3 separate regions of the Homo sapiens genome follow, and all the other regions are linked to region 2. The links come from fine-mapping of genetic effects on gene expression. A gene starts in region 2. Each other region holds a variant in brackets. All regions are shown on one strand. Distances are between the middles of the regions.

What was found. PIP is the estimated chance that this variant, and not a neighbour inherited with it, causes the effect. A credible set is the group of variants that fine-mapping cannot tell apart.
Region 1: its variant is the best candidate, but not a certain one, in a credible set for the expression of SLC16A10 in whole blood (TOPMed, PIP 0.52).
Region 3: its variant is the best candidate, but not a certain one, in a credible set for the expression of SLC16A10 in whole blood (TOPMed, PIP 0.51).

Annotation. Positions count from the first base shown.
Region 1 is chr6:111,156,589-111,160,834 of GRCh38, forward strand. All of the region lies in intron 1 of SLC16A10 (solute carrier family 16 member 10), which reads left to right. Among named protein-coding and RNA genes, the nearest start is that of SNORD166, 45 kb to the left of the region's middle. The variant A/T (reference allele first, on the strand shown) is at 1,780.
Region 2 is chr6:111,084,976-111,089,221 of GRCh38, forward strand. SLC16A10 (solute carrier family 16 member 10) reads left to right here and starts at 2,528. Exons shown (of 6, transcript NM_018593.5): 1 at 2,528-3,120. The coding sequence starts at 2,778. RefSeq lists silencers at 2,209-2,888, 2,919-3,098 and an enhancer at 2,911-3,411.
Region 3 is chr6:111,227,968-111,232,213 of GRCh38, forward strand. It overlaps SLC16A10 (solute carrier family 16 member 10), which reads left to right. Exons shown (of 6, transcript NM_018593.5): 6 at 1-3,227. The region is part of intron 2 of SLC60A2-DT (SLC60A2 divergent transcript); the gene reads right to left. Among named protein-coding and RNA genes, the nearest start is that of SLC60A2-DT, 29 kb to the right of the region's middle. The variant G/T (reference allele first, on the strand shown) is at 2,211.

The sequences.
Region 1 (4,246 bases), 72 kb after region 2:
TGCTGTCAAGGTCATCTGAAACAAGAAAAGTCTGGCAAACTGTCACAGTCAAGAGGAGACTAAGGAGATATGACGACTAAATATAATGTGGTATCTTGTATGGGATCTTGGAATAGAAAAAGGATATTAGTTAAAACTGAGGAAATCTGAGTAAAATATAGATGTTTGTTACTAATAATGTATCAATAGTAGTTCATTAATTGTGACAAATGTAACATACTATCGTAAGATGTTAATAATAGAGGAAACTGGATGTGAGGTATATGGGCACTCCCTGTACTGTTCACAATTGTTATGTAAATCTGAAACTATTCTAAAATGAAAGTGTATTTTATTTTATTTTATTTTGAGACGGAGTCTTGTTCTGTTGCCCAGGCTGTAGTGCAGTGGTGAAATCTCGGCTCACTGCAACCTCCACCTCCTGGTCTCAAGCGATTCTCCTGCCTCAGCCTCCTAAGTAGCTGGGATTACAGGCACGCGCCACCACACCCAGCTAATTTTTATATTTTTAGTAGAGATGGGGTTTCACCATGTTGGCCAAGCTGGTCTTGAACTCCTGACCTCAGGTGATCCACCTGCCTCGGCCTCCCAAAGTGCTGAGATTACAGGCGTGAGCCACCGCGCCCAGACAAAAGTTTATTTTTTAAAAGGTAGGAAAGTTTCACATTTTGATCGTACTATTGAGATAAAACTTGGTTGTTGTTGTTGTTTTTGAGATGGAGTCTTGTACTGTCACCTGGACTGGAGTGCAATGGCATGATCTTGGCTCACTGCTACCTCCACTTCCCGGGTTCAAGCGATTCTCCTGCCTCAGCCTCCTGAGTAGCTGGGACTACAGGCACCTGCCACTACGCCCAGCTAATTTTTTGTATTTTTAGTAGAGATGGGTTTCATTATGTTGGCCAGACTGGTCTCTAACTCCTGACCTCGTGATCCGCCTACCTTGGCCTCCCGAAGTGCTGGGATTACAGGCATGAGCCACCGTGCCTGGCCAAACTTGGTGTTTTCATCTGAGAATGAGGTTTCCAAGAATTGAAGATACAAGTTAGCTAAATAGTATCAGTGAAACCACAGAGTATAACTTCAGACCACTTGTGGTTTTAAGGCAGATCTATGCCACAGAGAAGTATTTGAATTTAAATCAAAGTATAAAATAAATATCTATGAGTCCATAATGATATAAACAAGTGATTGAATAAATACATAAATGTGGGAGACTAGACAAATCTCCCATGCAGAAGAATTCCAAATAGTTTATGTAGGTAAATATTTCAGAGTATCAGTACTATGATCCTTCTTACAATGCTATATCCGACTAAAAAAAAAAAAAAGAAAAAAAGAAAAAGAACTGTGATCCTAGTTGCGAATGTTGACTTATAGCCAGAAAAGATGACTTTCTTATTTGAAAGCATCATGAAATGCTATCAGCATGCAGAAATGAGAGGGCATAACAGAGAGCTATTCTATCGTATTTTTATTTAATGTTTTAAAAGAGCTATTAATAATATAATGTGAAGAGAAGTTTTAATTTCAGAGGAATGGGATGTTTGGTTTTAAGATTATTTTTGCAAAATGTAGTCTGTCATTTTTAAAGTGAACTTTATAATGAAAAGAGTTTGAAATTATTTCCCTATTATTAATATTTATTTATTTTTATTACTTTTCTGCCATGACAATTACAGTGCACATTTTCCCTATTTTTAGCTTTTTTCTGGTAAAGTGATTTTACCTCCTGTAGATCGTCAGTCCCCAGACTTTCTGGCACTAGGGACTGGTTTC[A/T]TGGAGGACAATTTTTTGACAAATTGGAGGGGGAATGATTTCAGGATAAAACTGTTCTATCTCAGATCATCAGGCATTAGATTCTTACAAGGAATGTGCAACCTAGATCCCCTGCATGCACAGTTCACAATAGGGTTTGTGCTCCTATGAGAATCTAATGCTGTGCTGATCCGACAGGAGGTGGAGCTCAGGTGGTAATGCTCGCTCACCTACCACTCACCTCCTGCTGTGTGGCCTGGTTCCTAACAGGCTCGGGGGCTGGGGACCCCTGCTGTAAATAACCTTTCGAAGATCTGAAAATTAACTTTAGTATTTTTTTGTATTTACTCGATATTTTAAACAAACAAAAATCTAGAGAATGACATAACAAATGTATTTTCTGCGTATCCACTACTCTTTACTCAGATCCTAACATTCTCAGTTTTGAAAAGATGTAGGCTGGTCACAGTGGCTCATGCCTGTAATGTCAACACTTTAGGAGGCCAAGGAGGACAGATCACGTGAATCCAGGAGTTAGAGACCAGCCTGAGCTATAAGGCAAAACCCTGTCTCTACAAAAATTAGCCAGGTGTGGTGGCCTGCACCTGTAGTTCTAGCTACTCGGGAGCCTGAGGTGGGAGGGTCAATTGACCAGAGGCTATAGTGAGCTGTGATCCTGCCACTACACTCCAGTCTAGGTGGCAAAGCAAGACCCTGACTCAAAAAAAAAAAAAAAAAAAAAAAAAAAAAGATGTAAACATTACAGGCCCAGCTGTGGTCCCGTGTACACTTCTCCATTCCTAATCCCCTTCATGCACACTTTCCCACAGGTAATCACTATCCCACATTTGCTTTAATTATTCCCATCATGTTTTATGCTATGACTACAAATGTGTGAATCTATATTCCACTGTATGTTAATACCAACATTTTTTCATTTATTTTACCGCTGATGGGCAATTTAGGTTATTTCCAGATTTTTACTATTACAGATGCTTCTGTGAACATCCTTACTCATTTCTCCTTGTGCACATGTGCAAAATTTCTCTGGAGTACATACCTGGGAGTGGAATTACTAGAATGTGGTGCATGTACATGTTGTTGTATTTATCAGTAGTTCACTCTTATTTATTGCTGTGTATTCCATTACATAGATATACCATAATTTGTTTATCTAATCACTTATTTATAGACATTTGGGTTCTTTCTGTTTTTTTGACTATTAGAAATAAAGCAGCTATAAACATTTGTATATAAGTTTTTGTATAGGCATATGCTTTGGTTTCTCTTAGGCTCAGGGGCTGGGAACCCCCTAGGAATGGAGGAATAGCTGGGTCATATGGTAGGTTTATGTTTAACTTTTTAAGAAATTCCTGAACTGCTTTCCAAAGTGTTTGTACTATTTTATATTCCCAGTAGCAGTATGTGAAAGTTCTTGTTGCTCTACATCCTCACCAACACTTGGTATGATTAGTCATTTTTAGATATCCTGTGATGTGTGTGGTTTTTCATTGTTTTAATTGACAGTTCCCTGATGACTAATGATATTGGGTGTCATAGGCATATTTTCCATTTATATATCTTTTTTGTAAAGTTCAAATTTTTTGCCCATTTTTAAAATTGAGTTGCTTGGTTTTTATTGAGTTCTGAGAATTTTGTATGTAATTTATATACAAGTTCTTACTAGATATGTAATTTGCAAATCTTCTCTCTCAGTTTGTGGCTTGTCTTTTTATTCTCTTAGCAGTGTCTTTCAAAGAGAAGTTCTTAGTTTTGATGAAGTTTAGTTTATCAACATTTTCTTGTACTGATTTCTTGTATGGGCATTTAGGTTTTTCATGTTATATCTAAGAAATCTTTGCCTAAACCAAGATCACAAAGATTTTCTCCGGTATTTTCTTCTTTTGTTTGAGACAGAGTCTCACTCTGTTGCCCAGGCTGGAGTGCAGTAGTGCAGTCTCAGCTCACTGCAACCTCCACCTCCTGGGTTCAAGCGATTCTTGTGCTTCAGCCTCCTGAATAGCTGGTATTACAGGCATGTGCCACCATGCTCAGCTAATTTTTGTATTTTTTTAAGTAGAGACAGGGTTTCACCATGTTGGGAAGGCTGGTCTTCAATTCCTAACCTCAGGTGATCTGCCCAACTCAGCCTCCCAAAGTGCTGGTGACACAGGATTTTGCTCAGCTACTTTGCCAACCAGGGACTCACTCGGCCATGGGCCAAGGCACCCCGCTCACTTGGTCCACCTGTGCTATAGCTTCTACTGACGTTCAGCGGTTCCCGAGCTCTTGTCATGCATCTAAAAAGAAGGAGGATATGCTGACAATTTGAAGTGTAAGGATGGGTGGAGAAGAATTTTACTGAGTTATGGAACAACTCTCAGCATTAAGGGGACACGGGGTGCTCCCTCACCCCCACAGTCAGGTGGTTTTTCTCTCTCTCTCTCTGTGTCTGGGTCTGGGGCTTTTTATGGACTCAGAATGGGGA
Region 2 (4,246 bases):
CTTGAGGCCAGGAGTTCGAGACCAGCCTGGTTGCTGGTCTCAGCAATGTTGCTCAGGCTGATCTCGAATTCCTGGCCTCAAGCCATCCTCCCACCTGAGCCTCCCAAAGTGCTGGGATTACAGGCTTGAGCCACCACACCTTGCCTCATTTGTTACAATTAATGACCCAATGTTGATACATTATTATTAACTAAAGCCGACATTTTGTTCATATTTCTTTACTTTTAATCTAATGTCCTTTTTCTGTTCCAGTATCCATCCAGGATATCACATTACATTTAGTTATCATGTCTCTTAGGCTTTTTTTTTTTTTTTTGAGTTGGAATCTCACTGTCACCCAGGCTGGGGTACAGTGGCGCGATCTCAGCTCACTGCAACCTCTGCCTTCTGGGTTCAAGCGATTCTCCTGCCTCAGCCACCTGAGTATCTGGGATTACAGGCCCACGCCACTATGCCTGGCTAATTTTTGTATTTTTGGTAGAGATGGGGTTTCGCCATATTGGCCAGGCTGGTCTCGAACTCCTGACCTCAAGTGATCCGCCCGCCTCGGCCTCCCAAAGTGCTGGGATTACCAGCATGAGCCACGACACCCAGCCCTCTTAGACTCTTTTTTACTGTGACAGTTTCTCAGACTTTCCTTGTTTTTGATGACTTTTACAGTAATGAAAGTACTTAATGGGTATTTTGTAGACTGTCCTTGATTGGGATTTGTCTAATGTTTTTCTGATGGTTAGCCAGGGATTATGGGTTTTGGCAGGAAGACCACAGAGGTAAAGTACCATTTTCATCACATCATATCGGGGATACATTATCATCTAGTTGAGGTACTGTGTGCCATTTTTTGCACCCTAAAGTTATTTCTTCCCCCCACTCCCCCTTTCCATCCTATACTCTTTGGAAGAAAGTTACTACGCATACCCACACTTAAAGAGTAAACCATTGTACTTCACCTCCATGAGGGAGGGAGTATGTTCATAAAGTATTTACATTTCCTGCAGGAGAGATTTGTCTATTCTCTCCTCATTATTTATTTAATCATTTACTTACATCAGTACTGACTCGTGGATAATTCTTACATATGTGTTTGTTTGTGTGCATGCAAATATATAATCGATGTGCTTTCTTTGCCCAATAATATGTTGTGGACAACTTTCAAAGTCAATAAATACAGATGACCTTCAGAACTTTTAGAGGTTTTAAAGTAAGTATCTAATCAGTCTTCTACCAATGTACATTATACTTCCAAATTTTCCTTATTTCCAACAATACTGGGGTATCATCTTCATACATACATTTTTGTGCACTTATGTGCCTATTCCTTTGTTTACTATTTTACCCTCATTTCTAAGGCAGATTACACTTGAGCTATGTTCCCCATTCCACAACCAAGCACGGCTTGCTTTCCTTAGTTTATGCTATTTTCTCTACCTGGAATGCTCTTTTCCTGTCTTGACCCACTGAAGTCGTATGTATGAATCAGGGCTTCGGCCAAAGGCTGTTTGCTGTAGAGGCTCTTCTACAGTGTTTGGAGAGAATTTAAGGGACTATCTCATCTCTCTCTTTTGTACATGTATTATAACACATCATCTGAGCCTCCTAGTCTCTCCCAGGACTCTTTTTTCCTACCAGTTTATCAACTGATAAGAGGCAGAAACGAGATCAATCGCACTCATCTGTGTACTCTATCACAGTGGTGGGCACATCAAGTAACTAGCATATTTTGACTTTGATTGAAGTGAAGAATACGAATAACAGAAATTAAGAAGCATCCTCAATATTGCATAGCAGGTTACTCTTCTTTTCTTTTACATAGGATGGCACTCCATGCTTCAGGGAGACAGAGGAGTTGAATACAGGTTTTAGTTTTTGTTTAAAGTGAAAACGACTCTGATGTAGTTGAAAAGTAATGCTTTCTAGCTGTCTGTTAAAAATGTTTGTTGGTTGAAGACTTCGGAATTGCAGTCCAGTGAGGACTGAAAATAAGCATCTTTGGTGTGCCAAATATTCATAAGGAAATTGTATACGAATGCAAGAGAATGGAACTGAAGTAATAAAATAAGGGCTCTGATCCTTCAGATGACTTATTTAAGAAGCCAGGTGGCATAACGAATCTTACATATTATAATTAGTACTGAGAGGTGAATGCCAAAACATAAAACAAACACAATCGAGACAATGTTAGTGTGACTGTGACGCTGTGTCGGTGAGTTGAGGCTAACGATCCAGTGTGGCTCTCCTGAAGGCCCACCGCGCCCGCACCTAGGAGACGCGCCCCTTCTGCTCATGCTTTGAGGCGGGGTGACCCACACATCTGTGCCCCTCTCTGAGCAGGAGGAGGCCCCGTCGCAGACGCGCGCGCAGACAGCGTCTGCCGCGGGCACCTGGGGCCGCGCGCCGCGGGGCGCCCCGCCTCCGCTCTCCGAGGCCCAATCATCTGGAGGCTGTGGGGGCACGTCCCGCTCCCGGCCACGCCCCCAGCCGGCGGGGCGGGGGGTGCTTTTAAGAACCGGCGGCTGGCAGTGGGCTCAGTCGGGGGTGCGGGGCTGTGACCTAGAGGCTTCAGTGTCGATCCCCGAGGTGTTCGCGCGCGCCAGCTGTCCTCGCGGCCGCCTGCGCGCTGGCCGCCTGCGCGCTGCCAGCCCGCCCGCCCGCCAGGGGCTCCGCCGCCCTCGCCTCGGCCTCGTTAGCCCGCCAGGAGCCCCGCAGCTCCTCCGGGAGCCCGCTGGTAACTCGCGTCCCTCGCGCTTCTCCGGCGCCTGAGGGGCCCGCCTCGGGCCATGGTGCTCTCCCAGGAGGAGCCGGACTCCGCGCGGGGCACGAGCGAGGCGCAGCCGCTCGGCCCCGCGCCCACGGGGGCCGCTCCGCCGCCCGGCCCGGGACCCTCGGACAGCCCCGAGGCGGCTGTCGAGAAGGTGGAGGTGGAGCTGGCGGGGCCGGCGACCGCGGAGCCCCATGAGCCCCCCGAACCCCCCGAGGGCGGCTGGGGCTGGCTGGTGATGCTGGCGGCCATGTGGTGCAACGGGTCGGTGTTCGGCATCCAGAACGCTTGCGGGGTGCTCTTCGTGTCCATGCTGGAAACCTTCGGCTCCAAAGACGATGACAAGATGGTCTTTAAGACAGGTGAGGCGCGGCGCCCGCCGAGGCCAGCCTGGGCGACCCGCGTGGGGCCCCCGAGCGCATCCCGCGTGTGGGCTGTGTCTGCCTCCGAGTGTGCATGTCGGTGGGTCCCTGTGCCAGAGGGTGCGAGCAGGGGGGTCTTTCGAGTTGCAGACAGAGCCTGCCGCTTCTGGGGCCTCGGGGTGCCCGTCTTTATATGGAATCCAGCTGCAGAGCTGTGTGTTTGCAAGCAGGTCGCAGAACTTACTTGCCGAGATCGTCCTCCTTTCCCCTCAGCAGAGCAGACGCTAACAGTCCACAGGAGCCCTTCCTTTTATTGTTTGAAAACAAACAGAACCCCAGAACCTTCAACCCCAGTCATCGCCCTGTCATTTTTGTGGTCTCTTTCGTGACTATGCCAGTTATGTAGTTCTTCACCTGCCTCCCTGGGCCGCAGAGGGGTGTGCGTATGTTGGCGGGGCGGGGGGTGGAGTTTGGAGGAATGAAAGAGATTTGTACGAAGGTCACTGGAGTTCCAAAGGGGGCCCTGCAAGAGTCACGGTTCCGTGCGTTCCCGTCCCCCCGCCTTTTTTTGCCCTCTGGGTTAAATGTAGAAAACACGGGAGGCAGCCGGATTAGGGACTAGGATGAGGAAGGTGAAGGGTTGCTTCTTCCCTCTTCCTGTTGTGTTTTTTGACATTTTTTTTTAACCATATAGTAAATTAGATACAAAAGGTGCAGATTCAGCGTTTTCTCCCTGTAGAGCATTATTATGACTTTTTGGCTGGTTAGGCAAAAAACAAATCTAAGACCTTCTGCATGACACTTTAACATAAATTCTTTCACTTTATCCTGCAAGGTGAGCGCGGTCAACCCCATTTGGGTGAGAAAACTGTAGCTCAGTGAAAGTGTCTTGGTGGGTAGTAGAATGGCAATAAAACACATATCAACTGACTTCAAGGGCTAAGTGATTTCCATTACTAAATCAACCTCCCTCCCCATCATTTGGGGTAACTTTATATGATTAATAGTCTTTTTTTTTAACCTTGATTTTCTATTATTTTTAGAGTGAATATTTCTTAGGTCTTTAGTATGCATATGAGGAATGGGCAAGACTGTAATAAATTCTGAGACAAAGGTAATGCTGGGT
Region 3 (4,246 bases), 140 kb after region 2:
AAATATCAGTAAAATTTCTTAAGTGCTTTGTTCTGATAAACGGATGTAAAAGTAACAAAAAAGGAATAACAACTAATATGGCCTGTGGATCTGACAAAGAAAAACCTGAAGAAATTCAGAATCTAGATACACTTAGATTCTAAATTAGACACACTCAGATTCTAATGAACACTTAGAATGCTTCGCCAGTGGCTTTTCAAGTTACACTGGAAGCTTGATTATGAAAAAGTTTTGTTTTCATTGGCAAGAGGGTAGATGATCAGTGATGACAGATTGTACAGCTGTGCCCAAACCTGACAACTTACACATTAAACTCCTGTAAGAGACACTCCTTCCTAGTAGAACAAGGACTGGGACAATGAATTTTTGACTCACTGGAGTTTTTTAAAATGCTGTTCTTGAGTGTGGCAATAGTGTAGGAGTTAACCCAGTCTACCCAAAGAAGTTGCTTTGCCTTTCAATATGAGTGCTATAAAAAGAGTATTTTGGAGTTCAATGTCCCTAAACATGTATGCGATAGGAACTACCAATATAAAATAACACTTAGAACTCAAATTAGATTGGTAATACTATTTTGGAGCCTGTGATGTATGACTTTTATTCTTTACTAGATATTTTTCAGTATCCGTCATTAGAAGAGTCAGTTTGTTAAATATTTTAAATGTGTAAACACAAAACCTTTCTACTGTGATCTTCCCTAATGAGTCAAAGTATCTTTCATAATTCAGTCTATATTGAAATGTTATTTCAGGAATGGAGGGTTTGTTATTAATAGTGCTGGGCCGGGCACGGTGACTCATGCCTGTAATCCCAGCACTTTGGGAGGCCGAGACAGGCGAATCACCTGAGGTCAGATGTTGGAGACCAGCCTGACCAACATGGAGAAACCCCATCTCTACCAAAAATACAAAATTAGCCGGGCGTGGTGGCTCCATGCTGTAATCCCAGCTACTCGGGAGGCTGAGGCAGGAGAATTGCTTGAACCCAGGAGGTGGAGGTTGCAGTGAGCCAAGATTGCACCATAGCACTCCAGCCTGGGCAACAAGAGCAAAACTCTGTCTCAAAAAAAAAAAAAAAAAAAATAGTGCTGCATTTTGACCCTGGACTATGAACAGACTGTATAGTTGGTGCCTCTTTTTTTTCTACCAAAGATTATTAGATCAAGATTGGTGCTATACTTCATGTTCCTTTCAAAATTATTTTTCTTTTAAAAATATTAATATACAACACAATAGAAAATGTATACAGCCAGCAACGTTATGCATGTTGCATGTTATATACATGACTGAGGAAAAAAGCTCACCTATACAGTGATTATTGAGTTCCAGTATCTAGTTAGAGGTATGCAATTTTTGTTAACATATAAGACTTTAAATTACGAAACTCACAAGAAAATGATCACCAAATGAGAATGTTCTAATGAACACAACCTCCCAAGGTAATAATTTTAAAGAAAAAGTCCCTTGTCAATGTTTCTAGCACAAAGTGAGGGATTTAAATATATTCTGTAACTTTGAGGCAATGTGAAAAAGTTATATATAATAGCTTCCTATTGAGCTGGCTTATGTAGACATTTGGACATTTGAAACTATTTCGCAACTTTCAGGCTAAAATCAGAGTTTTGAGAGTCATCAATCTTAAAACATGGATAATGAGTTATTTGCACAGTTATATTTTTATAATTATTTGAAATTTATCACTGAAAGTATCATTGTTTGTCTTTCAGATTTAACATAAACAATAAGTACTGCGGCTGGGTCACTGTCAGCAAATCTCAGGTCTATGATTTATCAAGGGCTCTCAGCACCATCGTTGGTCTGATTGTGTAACACCTAAGTAAAATAACATATGGGTCTCCTTGGCCAGGCGCCGTGGCTCACACCTGTAATCCCAGCACTTTGGGAGGCCAAGGCAGGCGGATTGCTTGAGGCCAGGAGTTCGAGACATACGGGTCTCTTTAATGTTCTGTAGGTAGGATTCAGATGAATTGAGAATGACAGGTTTCTTTTTCTTTCTTTGTTTCTTTTTTTTTTTTTTTTTTGAGATGGAGTCTTGCTCTATTGCCAGGCTCCATATAGTGGCGCGATCTCAGCTCACTGCAACCTCCGCCTCCCGGGCTCAAGTGATTCTCGTGCCTCAGTCTTCTGAGTAGCTGGGACTACAGGTGCCCACTACCACACCGGCTAATTTTTGTATTTTTGGTAGAGATG[G/T]AGTTTCACCATGTTGGCCAGACTGGCCTTAAGTGATCCACCTGCCTCAGCCTCCCCAAGTGCTGGAATTACAGGCATGAGCCACCATGCCCGGCTAGAGAATGACAGGTTTCAGTTGAATTCTTCTCTTTTAAAAGACCCTGACTTAACTGTATTTTATGAGGATTTTATAAATGTAAATTAAGAAGACAATACACACTCTCATTTTCCTAATTAGAAAGACTATGCATTCACAATCCAGTACACTGGATTTGCTCTGGTAACTAATGATAACACTTTTCTACGTTAACATGAGTTATATTTGGCAGAGAGAATGGAAGCTTGCTAATCAGAAGTTACATTAGGGTGAGATTAAACATCACTCTAATAATAACTTCTGATGTAACTTAATGTGGTTTGAGATGTGTAAGATTGTAGAGGCATTGCACAATGCTTGATAAAAGTTGCATTTTGCTTTTGTTCTTCCACCAGTTTATTTTAGCCTTAAAGTTATAGCTACAACAAATTGAACCCTGTAGTTATTACTGAAAGAGAGTGTGGATATTTTAAGTATCTCCTAGTATAATATGACATTGTTCATGTGGACTTATTTTAATGTTTATTTGAAAATTAATTTTTTAATTATTTTGTATATTTTGAGTTAGAAAAACACACTTTATCTTAGACACCAAAGCCAAATTATTCCAAGTGTATGCTATACACCGCAGTGCAGCTCTGCTTCTCTCCCAACCTACCCTGGGGCCATTTTTGGCACAATAGTTGTTCAAATGTAGATCACTATGCTGAATGCTCATGCTGGATTTGACCAGTATGCAGTATTTTAGTACTTTTTAAAAAATGTATGCTTCTTTTTGAAGACTATAATTTACAATTTTTTTAATAATGTGCAATTTAATATAGATAACCAAAATCTTTTTAATGAAAAGATCTTTACAATTGCTTGGAGGATAAGATTATTTTACTGTGGAAAAATGTGATACTCTTAGTAAATGCAATAAAAACTTTTTAGCAAATTCCTATAAGGCTTTGTGGTTATGTTTGTGGAATTCTCTGGAGGGTGGGGGAGGGGAAATTATTGAAACGAAAGGAATAGTTTATGTTGAATAAAAGAAATAAGCTGTGTGCTTTTTACATTGCATATCTGTATTCTACATGCGTTTGGGTACTGTTATTTCCCCGGAGCAGGGAACAGGGATAGAAATGATCCAAAAGCTTTAGATAGTCTAAAAACCACTTCTATTTGACGCTTACTTTTTTTGTACTTGACTTACATTGCCATTTTTCTTACATTGATTACACTTACTAAATTCAGATGATACTCAGTGAGCTTCTACTGACTGACAATTTTAGGGGATAGTCAAGAACCAGGCTGTAAAAAAAAAAAGCAGTCCCATTACTGTGGATTGCTTGCTTGGATAAAAACTGACTCTGCCATCAGAAGATGTTTATGATTTGATGAGCCTTAACTACAAAGCAAATCATTATTTATGTTTAATAGTACTAATGAGATTTAATACATTAAACTCAAGAACTTGGCATTTGTGATATGTCATTTAATCCAAAAAGTATTTACATGTCAGAATGTGTAGGCCATTAGAAGACCTTTGAGGGAACTGAGGAGAGAATAGATATGACCAATTGTTACTGATCTTAAGCAGGATAAAATTCATTCTCCTGAGGAAAATTTTGGGTTTTTTTTGTTTTTTCTGAGATGGAGTTTCACTTTTATCACCCAGGCTGGAGTGCAATGGCGCGATCTTGGCTCACTGCAACCTCTGCCTCTCGGGTTGAAGTGATACTCCTGCCTCAGCTTCCCGAGAAGCTGAGATTACAGGCACCCACCAACACACCCGGCTAATTTCTGTATTTTTAGTAGAGAGGGGGGGTTTCACCATGTTGGCCAGGCTGGTCTCGATCTCCTGACCTCAGGTGATCTGCCAACGTTGGCCTCCCAAAGTGTGGGATTATAGGCATGAGCCACCACGCCTGGCCAGAAAATAATTTTTATAGAAAAAAATAGAAGAATTCTAATTCAT